3 linked regions of the Homo sapiens genome follow. The protein of the gene in region 2 purifies or fractionates together with the protein of the main gene of each other region. This does not show direct contact. Each region holds a gene or a part of one and is shown on either strand. Other genes may lie near its edges.

What was found.
Region 1: the proteins of PTPRA (region 2) and LGALS8 purify together in Homo sapiens (affinity purification with mass spectrometry; 3 studies listed by BioGRID and IntAct, with this or other methods). This does not show direct contact.
Region 3: the proteins of PTPRA (region 2) and CSE1L purify together in Homo sapiens (affinity purification with mass spectrometry, with the first as the bait; 2 studies listed by BioGRID). This does not show direct contact.

The regions. Positions count from the first base shown.
Region 1 is NC_000001.11:236,540,865-236,544,517, reverse strand, and holds part of LGALS8 (galectin-8), read right to left. Parts: intron 2,865-3,653; coding exon 2,808-2,864; intron 1,758-2,807; coding exon 1,731-1,757; intron 1,604-1,730; coding exon of another isoform or gene 1,478-1,603; intron 959-1,477; coding exon 870-958; intron 1-869.
Region 2 is NC_000020.11:2,876,474-2,880,126, forward strand, and holds part of PTPRA (receptor-type tyrosine-protein phosphatase alpha isoform 1 precursor), read left to right. Parts: intron 1-3,653. UniProt on the Homo sapiens protein: Tyrosine protein phosphatase which is involved in integrin-mediated focal adhesion formation.
Region 3 is NC_000020.11:49,084,285-49,087,937, forward strand, and holds part of CSE1L (exportin-2), read left to right. Parts: intron 1-998; coding exon 999-1,102; intron 1,103-3,653. UniProt on the Homo sapiens protein: Export receptor for importin-alpha. Mediates importin-alpha re-export from the nucleus to the cytoplasm after import substrates (cargos) have been released into the nucleoplasm.

The sequences.
Region 1 (3,653 bases), on a different chromosome or scaffold from region 2:
CGTTGAGGCTGAGATGTGGTTGGACAGAAATGGAAGGTTTAACGCTAAACTGAATGACTACTTCAGGCTGCAGGAGCCTGGGATCCTCTCAAGCAGGTATTCTCTTTTCATCATCTACCCGTGTTCCTTCCTTCTTGAAAGTATGCCACTTTCTAGGAAATAGCTCTAATTTCAAGCTTTCAGAAGGCTGGACGTCTGTGGAAAAAGTTGTTAAAGCAGAAATTTTCTAAATCACATGACAAGAGGGGCCCTAAAAAATGTTGCCTGGGCTGGGCGTGGTGACTCACACCTGTAATCCCAGCACTGGGAGGGCGAAGTGGGCGGATCACTTGAGGTCAGGAGTTCCAGACCAGCCTGGCCAACATGGTGAACCCCTGTCTCTACTAAAAATACAAAAATTCAAAAAGTAGCTGGGCGTGGTGGTGCGCCTGTAATCCCAGCTACTCCAGAGGCTGAGGTAGGAGAATGGCTTGAACACCCAGGAAGCGGAGGTTGTGGTGTGCTGGGATTGTGACACTGCACTCCAGCCTGGGTGACACAGTGAGGCTCCATCTCAAAAAAAAAAAAGAAAAGATGTTGCCTGATCTTACGGGGCTGCTCTGGAGTTCTACAAGGCAAGGATAGGCCTCGTGGACAAAAATGCTACTCTCTTGTCTGGCCAGAAAAAGCCGAGGTCAGAACACGGCCTTAGTCGGCTCTGCTGCCCACTGGCTGTTCACAATCTAACCACCTCCTGCTTGAATCATCTCACTTTGGAAATGAAGATTCTGACGCTAGCCCTTCTTCCAGCTCACAGGACCGTTCACGGGTGGAAGGCGGTAACAGGCACGGAAGTATCTGCACTGTGACTGGTACCGAAGGATACTGACCTTTTGGCATTTGCATTCACTTCTCCTTTAACGACGACAGTTCGTCCAGGGCCCATGGGGGTGTTCAACCTTGCAGCGAATGGCAGCCTCTGAAAAGAAGCCACAGTCAGGACCAAGAGGCCTGCAGAAAGCGATCTCCAGGGAAAACTCGTGTCCAAAGAACACTACGGAATGTTTCAGAGCCATGACCCTGTAAATCCCAGGAGGGGAGAGACAGTCTGCCTTGGTCCCAGCTGGGTCCCCTGCAGCAGCACTGTCCCTGGCTCGAAGCAAACACACATGATTACATTTTAGACGATGAAATGAGTGACAGGGTGGGACCCGATGCCCTCTGTATGAGTGAAACACGCCAGGAAGGCCCCCTGTGCCTGGGGTCTGAGGCAGTACTGTGTTCTGCCTGAAGGGGAAGCAGCCAAGCAGGGAGGTGCTGAGGAAATACACAGGAATGGCTCAGAGGCAGGCCTGGTTGACTCTCGAATCCGTCCAGGGACGGCACACAAATGCAGAGGGGGCTGCTTTGGGCCTCTATTGTGGATACAGGTTACTCGTAACAGCTCATTACAACTTAATTTTTATATAGAGTTAAGAAAATTTGGTGCTCTTCAAACCTTTGACACATAGTTCATAGGTGGTATTTTGGTGCAAGTCAAAGTGTGATTGACAGTCGAATCTTTGCTCTTGGTGTAGACAGTTCTGGGTGCGATTTTAGAAATGTCTCCTCCTCTATTACTAGGCTGTAGGGAAACAGTTCTACAGTAAGGAATGGAATGAATGAAGCTGCCCTCCACGGTTTAAACTGTTCATTTTCTATGCAACTTTATAAAATATTCCACATGAAATAACCCAGGCAAAAATACTCACAAGCTGGGGCGTGCCAGACTTTGGAACCTATTGGAAAAGAAACAAAACACAACAATGTTAGAAGGGGAAGAATTATAGTTTATAATCTGAAGTCTTGGTTGTGCTGAGCTGAGCCTGGCCGGAGCCTGGGATGTTCCTGCTCCACTCTGGTGTGACCTCCAGGCAGCTGGTGCTTTATGACGGAATGGTATGGTGTTGTGAAGGGCTACACGGGTTGAGAAGAGAGTCTGATATCCCTGTTCATCTGAGTCCTTTATCCTCCACCATAAATTAATAATTTTTCATAGAACTATATGAAATTTTTTTAAGAGACAGGGTCTTACTCTGTCATCCACACTGGGATGCAGTGGCTCAATCATGGCTCACTGCAGCCTCAACCTCCTGGGCTCAAGTCATCCGCCTACTTCAGCCACCCAAAGCTGGGATCACAGCCATGCGCCACCATGCCCAGATAATTTTTTAATTTTTTGTAGAGATGGGGTTCTCCCTATGTGGCCCAGGCTGATCTCAAACTCCTAGGCTCAAGCAATCCCCCCACCTCAGCCAAAGCGCTGGGACTACAGGCCTGAGCCACCACCTTCACCCAGCACTACATGAACTTCAAACGTGTCTTAGTTGTCCTTTCCAGGGTGCCCCCAGAATGCTAAGATTCTGTTCTGTCTGTGAGGTGTGAACGTGCCAGTCGGTAAGACCTCACTTTCTCCATTAATAACAGCGCATTTTTAAATTGCAGTTATTCTCCCAGGGGTTGAAGATACACATGGAAGTTCATTTGCCAGTGCACTGGCTGATGTTCAATATTTGGAAATACCCCAGAACAGTACTATTCAGCAGTTAAGAGTGAGAGAGTGCTTTTTACATAAGAACAGTGAGTGGCAGTTACAGAAACTGACAGGTGAATCATCAGCAAAAACTTACTGCGTGCCTGGCACCACAAGTATGTATCTCAATTTTCAAGTGATTACTTGCGTTCTAAAAGCATAATTTTCAAAAACCCAGCCTTCTTGCCATTTCATTAACATGGCAGCTAAAACAACATTTTTAAACCAGTGGCTCATTAAAAGATTTAATATTTACATTTTCTCTACTTATCTCTGTCAGTTCCAGACTAGATGCTTGGGTACTTTGTAAGTCCTGAGAAAAGATAATAAAGATTAATTTGTAACATCCAGTAGAAAATATTTTCTAAATATTTTATATTGACATATAAAAAAATTATAAATGGTACTAAAAATATGCTTGAAAACTATGATCCAAAAATACACTTGACACTGTGGTCCTTTCCGCCCCCCATCAGATTGGCAAACATTACAGAGAATAAGATGTAATGTCAGCAAGAAGGTGGGAGCATGGCTGTTGAGAGTGCAAACTGTTTTTACCCTTGTGAAGGGCGAGTTAGTATCTATCAAAATTTTCAATGCAAAGACAGTCATGTGTTGCTTAACGAAGGGGGTATGTTCTGAGAAATGTGTCCTTACATGACTTTTGTCATCGTGCAAACATCACAGAATATTACTTAACAACCTTAGATGGTACTGCCAACTACACACCTAGGCTGTAGGGTGTGGCCTATAGCTCCTGGCCAGTGAATCTGTACAGCAGGCACTGTACCAAATACTGTAGGCAACCAGAGCAGGATGGTAAGTATTTGTGCATATAAACTTACCTAAACATAGAAAAGGTATGGTAAAAATACAGTATATGACAATCTTATGGGACCACGGTTGTATATGTGGTTCATCTTTGACTGAACTGTCCTTATGCAACACATGACTGTGCTCTTTGACTCAGGCACTCCCAGCCTAGGAACCTGTCTTACAGAAATACTCCATTTTATGCCCATGCAAAGGAAATAGCTGCTACCCAGCTAAAAACTGTGTGTGTTTTATTAAAACCACACTAGGTTTGAGATCCTACAGACAA
Region 2 (3,653 bases):
TTTACTTAACATATTTAGGAAATCATTCTATTATCAACATATATAGAGAGTTATTTGTTCTTTCTGTTGACATGCTTTTACTTATTTAGTTGTATGGCTGTACTGTAACATCTTTGGGTTAAATATTTGTTTCCAGGTTCTTCTCTTACAGCAATGAATGTCCTTGTACATACTGTGTTATGTGCTCATTTGCAAAGTTATCTGAACAATATGCTTTTAGAAGTAGAATTACTGGGTCAAGGGATATGTCTGCATTTTTGATTTGCAGACATGGAGCCAAACTGCCACCCGTTTCTGGGGGGTTGTACCAATTTATCCTCTCCCCCAAAGTGTATAGCTGGATAGATGATCTTTGGAGAATTCAGGAGGATCAACTACGATGCTTTTTCAGCTATTATATGCCTACTTTTCCTCCACAAATCCTCCCCCACCCTATGCGATTCTAGCCAGTTTCTTTGAATTTACAGAGGGAGATGTTGAGGCTCAGAAGGATAAAAGTAACTTGTGCAGGATGATCAGTGCGGGTGGTGGTGGGTGTTTTGTTTTGTATTTTTGCACCCCTCATGTTTGTATTTGCCAGCACCTTTCATTGGAGGTGCTCAGTGTCAGTTTGTAAACATTATTGCATTATTTTTCTCCATTTTCACATGGAAAAAAATGAGATGCAGGGGAAGTTTGAGTTATGAGAGGGAAACTGGCCAAATATAGAATCTTGTCATTTTACTTCCAGTGCAATAATAAATGTTTCCAAATGACAAAGCTGAAGAGATGTTTTTTGTTTGTTTGTTTGTTTGTTTGTTTTTTGAGATGGAGTTTTGCTCTTGTTGCCCAGGCTGGAATGCAATGGCGCTATCTTGGCTCACGCAACTTTTGCCTCCTGGGTTCAAGCGATTCTCCTGCCTCAGCCTCCCGAGTAGCTGGGATTACAGGCATGTGTCACTGTACCTGGCTAATTTTGTATTTTTAGTAAAGACGGGGTTTCTCCATGTTGGTAAGGCTGGTCTTGAACTCCTGACCTCAGGTGATCCGCTGGTCTTGGCCTCCCAAAGTCCTGGGATTACAAGCATGAGCCACCGTGCCCGGTGAAGAAATGGTTTTTTAGTGAGTCTGAGTACAACAAAAATAGCAATAATATAACACTAACTTAATAAAACTGAACAGCAGGCCCAAAAATAGCCCAACATTAAAATTTATTTTAATGTATTCTCTATGGAAAAGAGAATCCATTAAATGTAAAACTATTTATTTTACTCTAAATTCACATCCATTTGTGTCAGTGTACAAGACATAATTTTTATAGTAGCAGTCAGTACATATAGAATATGATTTTTGAATTCTTCAATAGCATAAAATATTTTATATTTACTCATTTAAGTATTTGTTCATTTAAAATCACAGGCTGGGTGCGGTGGCTCACGCCTGTAATCCCAGCACTTTGGGAGGCTGAGGCAGGTGGATCATGAGGTCAAGAGATCAAGACCATCCTGGCCAACATGGTGAAACCCCATCTCTACTAAAAATACAAAAATTAGCTGGGTGTGGTGGCGCGTGCCTGTAATCCCAGCTACTCGGGAGGCTGAGGCATGAGAATCACTTGAACCCAGGAGGCGGAAGTTGCAGTGAGCCAAGATCTTGCCACTGTACTCCAGCCTGGCGACAGAGCGAGACTCCGTCTCAAAAAAAAGAAAAAAAAAATCACAGTATAGTATTCCATGCATCGACAGCTGTAGTTTTTTTTAAATTTGTTTTTGTTTTTTTGAGACAGGGTCTCACTCTGCCACCCTGGCTGGAGTGCAGTGGCATGATCACAGCTCACTGCAGCCTTGACCTCCTGGGCTAAATGATCTTCCCATCTCAGCCACCTGAATAGCTGGGACTGCACAGGTCTGTGCCACCACGACCAGCTAATTTTTTTATTTTTTGTAGAGACATTTTTATGTTGCCCAGGCTAGTCTTGAACTCCTGGACTCAAGTGATCCACCCGCCTTGGCCTCCCAAAGTGCTGGGATTACAGGTGTGAGCCACCACTCTCAGCCAACAGCTGTAGTTGGTGCAATCCTTTTTATTCTTTTATTTTTTTCTACCTTTTTGCTATTATAAATGGTACTTTTATACCCCTTGTTCAAATACTTCTTTTGGATTATTTCCTTGGACTCTTACTCCCAACCTGGGCTCACCAAGTCAGAGGATACAGTTTCGGTGCCTAATTGCAATCTGGAAAGGTTGAACTAGTTTCCAGCACTATCAGCAATTTATGGGGCCATTTCTTGACAACCCATCTAGTGCTATTACAAAGAAATGTAATGATACCTTGAATTAGGTTTAATTTACATTGCTTTGGAAAAAGAGACCAGTAGCTGATTTAGATTTTTTGAAAGAAGTACAGTGCTGTGATATAGATTATCTCCAAGATTTATGTAACTGAAGCCAACTTGTGGTTGAAGAAAGATTTGGTTGATGAGATTGAAATATTGTGGAAGTTTAGAATAGGATCATAGCAGTATAAAATATAAGGCTAGATGCTGTTCAGTTGGAAATACCAGGCATTGTGCCGGAAGCTGGGGACACCCCAGAGTAACATAGATGTGATGTCTGTCCTCATGACACTTTTAGGTTAGTGCAGTAGACAGACATTAAAATCACCTATGGTAATTATAGATGTGATGAAAGGGGAAGAATAGGGTGTCGGGAGTGTCAGAGAAGTTCAGCAGCTAAACAACATTTGCAGTTAAACATTTGTGAAGGCCCTGAGCTGAGAAGGGATTTGGTAGCTCAGGGCAGCGCTTCGCTAACTTGAATGTGCTCATGAACCATCTGGGAATCTTGTTAAAATGCCAAGTCCTGAATCAGTAGGTTTGGGGTGGGACTTGGGATTCTGTGTTACTAACCAGCTCCTGGGTGAGGCAGATGCTGCTGGTGGGTGGATCACACTTGGTGTAGCAAGGCCTAATTGAGAGCTTGGTGAGCACCTAAAACTGGCTGACCATGGTGAGCAGGAAGGGGCAGGTGGCTTGCAGTGACAGAGTAATTCTCTGCCTAGGCTGCACTTTAGATTCACCTGGGGAACTTAGAAAAATCAGGGTTGCAAATGCCCCACCCGCAGCCATTTTAATTTAATTGGTCTCAGTTGGGGCCTGAGAATGTGTATACAGTCATGCACAGTATAACGATGTTTCCATCAAGGAGAGACTGCATATGCCACAGTGGTCCCATAAGATTATAATCCATAATTTTACTATACCTTTTCTATTTTTAGATATGTTTAAATACACAAATACTCACTGTGTTAGTTACTTACAGTATTCAGTACAGTAACATGCTGTACAGGTTTGTAGCCTAGGAGCAGTAGGCTATACAATATAGCCTAGATACGTAGCAAGCTGTACCATCTCATTTTGTGTAAGTACCTTTTATGATGTTTGCAGAATTATGAAATCACATCAGGACTCATCCTCAGAATGTGTTCCATTGTTAAGTGATGCATACCTGTATATATATTTTAACTCCCCAGGTGATTCTAATGTGTAGCCAGGCTTGAGAACTAGAGACTAAGGACAGTGTTGAGACTAGAGAATGGCAAGGAGCAGAGTTGAGGGTCCTGTATGGCATGCAAGGATTTTGGACTCTATCCTGAAGGCAGAGCTAAATCTTTG
Region 3 (3,653 bases), about 46 Mb from region 2:
ATACTCTGTTTCATTCTAAAAGCATTTGAGGCTGCTTACTAAAATAGGTGCATTATGACAATACAATTTAATAAACTGGAGCCAAGGAAAGTAACTGAGATAAAGTTAATAAACAGAAATGTGTGTCAAAGGATCCTATATAGTAGTCCAAGAAACTCCAAATTTTATTTGGAGTCTCTTAGCAGCCAGGGCAAAGAGGGAAACTTGGGAAGTTAAAATTTTCACAGGGTCTATGAGATAAAAGTTAAAGCAGAGAATACTGTACAATAGTAGTAGTAGTGTTCTCAGCAACAATCATGTAACAGTTATTTTCATGTGGCTATTTGCGTAAGGTCACTTATTTCTGAGATATGACCTAACCGAATGAAAGTAATTCACTGGGGACCAAGAAAATAGGTCTTCTGGCCTGAACCAGGATGAAATGTAGAGGAATGGATGGTCTGCATGTCTTTCAGGCCACTATTCAACAGTATTATTTCTTGAAATGAGCTTTGGGTAAGAGATGGAAAACAGTTCTAGGTTCTTTCCTTCATCAAGAACTTGAAGTACAGATACTCTCAGTGGCCAATTAAGGGTAGAAAGGACATCCTTTGAGGTGAGTCAAGCCAGTACCTATCTTCAGGCCCAGAATTTATGCAGAAAACAGTTCTGAATCTTGGCTCCACCTCCAAAAACAAAATAAATGACAGAGTCCCCTGAGATTCTGAGTTCTTTCTCAGTGGTAATAGATATAAACCAGGGACAACTGTTTCAACTTCAGATGTTGTTGGGTTTAGCTGGCTTTTTGGTTCAGTTGTGTTTGGTTCTCGATGTGCCTTCTTAGGAGCCTAACATGAGCACATGTAAAAAAATTATTTTCCTAAACTGTCTATCAATTGTCAGTGGTGGGAGATGGCTCAGTTTTATGCTGAGAAGGGTGACATAGTGGTTGCCAAGGGTAATCTGCAGTGACAAGCTCAAGAGTTGGTAGTGACTGAAAGCTGTTTTTTCATCTATAGCTTTACAGCTGCAGAAATCGCACCGTTTGTTGAGATTCTGCTAACAAACCTTTTCAAAGCTCTCACACTTCCTGGCTCTTCAGAAAATGAATATATTATGAAAGGTAGGCTGTTTCCCTGGTGTGCAGACTACAGGTATCCAATCTCAGATTGTAAGGGTGAGCACTCTGAGTTATACTTCAGGTTATACAGTCTATGAACCAGATAATGTTTACCAAGTAGTAAGTTAGTTTAGATATTTCAAAATGAAAAACATTATCTTGTTTACTACTAACAATAATTTTTTTTTTTTTTTTTTTTTTTTTTTGAGATGGAGCCTTGCTCTGTTGCCCAGGCTGAAGTGCAGTGGCTTGATCTCAGCTCACTGCCACCTCTCCCTCCTGGGTTCAAGCGATTCTCCTGCCTCAGCCTCCCGAGTAACTGGGATTACAGGTGCACTCCACCATGCCCGGTTAATTTTTGTATTTTTAGTAGAGACAGGGTTTTGCCATATTGGCCAGGCTGGTCTCAAACTCCTGACCTCAAATATCTGCCCGCCTCAGCCTCCCAAAGTGCTGGGATTAGAGGCCACTGCACCTGGCCAACAGTAATCTTAATTTGATATGGAACTTCTCATTACAGAAAATGTAGCAAAGCCCTTTTTTCCTTCCCTAGATTGAGTTTCTTTAAGGCAAAGAAGAGATCATGCAACGTTTATTAACTGCATGCTCACCTAGGTAGGGGTGAAATGTGGGTGCCTGTGGTAGACTCTGCACAAATCGTGTCTTCTTACGTACTGCCAAGGACACAGGCAGCTGTATCCATCCACAGGCTGGTGTATCCATCCACCAGGCACTACATTAGTTGAGTGTCCTGGTGCCAGCTCTGAATTTAGAGATAGTCTCAGTGTTTTTCACTGTTGCATCCCAAAAGCCTAGCACATTGGGTTGTAGGAAGCACTTTTCAGAGAAACTCCCTGATCTTTTCAGTCTGGATCAGAAATCCTAGAGTGGATGTGTGTATCTGGGTGTATGTTTCCAACACTATCCTTCCCCCAACAATGATGTATAATTGTGTAATTATTGTTGTTTAATGTCCTTTTTTTTTTTTTTTTTTTTTTTGAGATGGAGTTTCACTCTTGTTGCCCAGGCTGGAGTGCAATGGCACAATCTCAGCTCACTGCAGCCTCACTCTCCTGGGTTCAAGCGATTCGCCTGCCTCAGCCTCCCGAGTAGCTAGGATTACAGGCGTGTGCTACCATGCCCAGCTAATTTTGTATTTTTAGTAGAGACAGGGTTTCTGCATGTTGGTCAGGCTGGTCTTGAACTCCCGACCTCAGGTGATCCACCCGCCTCAGCCTCCCAAAGTGCTGGGATTACAGGTGTGAGCCACTGCGCCCAGCCTTAATGTCCATTTCTATGAGAGCGGCTAACTAGTCTGTAATCTTCATTACTGTGTTTTTAGGGTATGTAAGAATACACAGTATGTAATACCTTCTCTGTACGGTTGTATGAGTGAATGAAATAATTCTGCGCCAGCCTAGTGGAGGAGCACCAATTTATCCTCTAGCCCTTTTAACCCAGGTCAGGGAAGGATTTTCTCTAGGAAGTGATCTCTAAGCTGAGATATGACCTAACCGAACGTTAGGTGTGAGGGATAGGTAGCAATCTGTTGAAGGGTGGATGAGTCTTTGACTCCAGTAGAGGAGGAAACATGATGTGCAGAGTTCAGGAGGCAAGAGCAGATAGCTTTCTGTCCTTTATGCTTGGCATGTATTTGGGGCTCTGCTTAGTAAACATTTATTTTAGAAATGTTATTTGTGGAAAGAGAGCTTTTATACATTTTTAGCTGACAAATTTATTTTTCTCCCATGCTTCCTATTTTTAACCCATTTATGGTCTTTTGAGCAATATTTTTGCAATTTGGACTCTGTGGCTTTACATGTATTTTTAGAATTTTTTTAGGCTCCTAATCTCTTTTTTTGAGGGAGGTGGATAGGCAGTTTTCTCTTCAGTTTCCTGTAGTTTGTGATCATGTTTCCTTTAGGCTAGGGCTAAACATTTTCTGATGCTGGTTTCTTTTTCTTTTTCTTTTTTTTTTTTTTTTTTGAGAGAGAGAGGGAGTCTCGCTCTGTCTCCCAGGCTGGAGTGCAGTGGCATGATCTTGGCTCACTGCAACCTCCACTTCCCAGGTTCAAGCGATTCTCAAGCCTCAGCCTCCCGAGTAGCTGGGACTACAGACGTGCACCACATACCTGGCTAATTTTGCTATTTTTAATGGAGATGGGTTTTGCCATGTTAGCCAGGTTGGTCTCAGACTCTAGCCTCAAGTGATCCGCCAGCCTCGGCCTCCCAAAGTGCTGGGGTTACAGGTGTGAGCCACCAAGCATGGCCTCTGCTACTGATTTCTAAGAGAAAGAGACCCCAAACAGTTCTCTCTCAGACTCACCTGCTCCATTCATGTCAGCTCACTGTTTCTTCCTCTTAGTCAACCTCTTTAATTATTTTTTAAACCTTGAGCCTTCTAGAAATACTCAGTATTTCCCAGCTAAATTTTGTTGCCAACCCGTCCTAATTTTAAAAGGAAGGGAAATTTAGATTATTTTTAAATGTAGAGAGCTATCTCGGGGTTGTCTAAGCATCTTAAAATTTAGTTGATGAATTAGTGCGCTTTTTT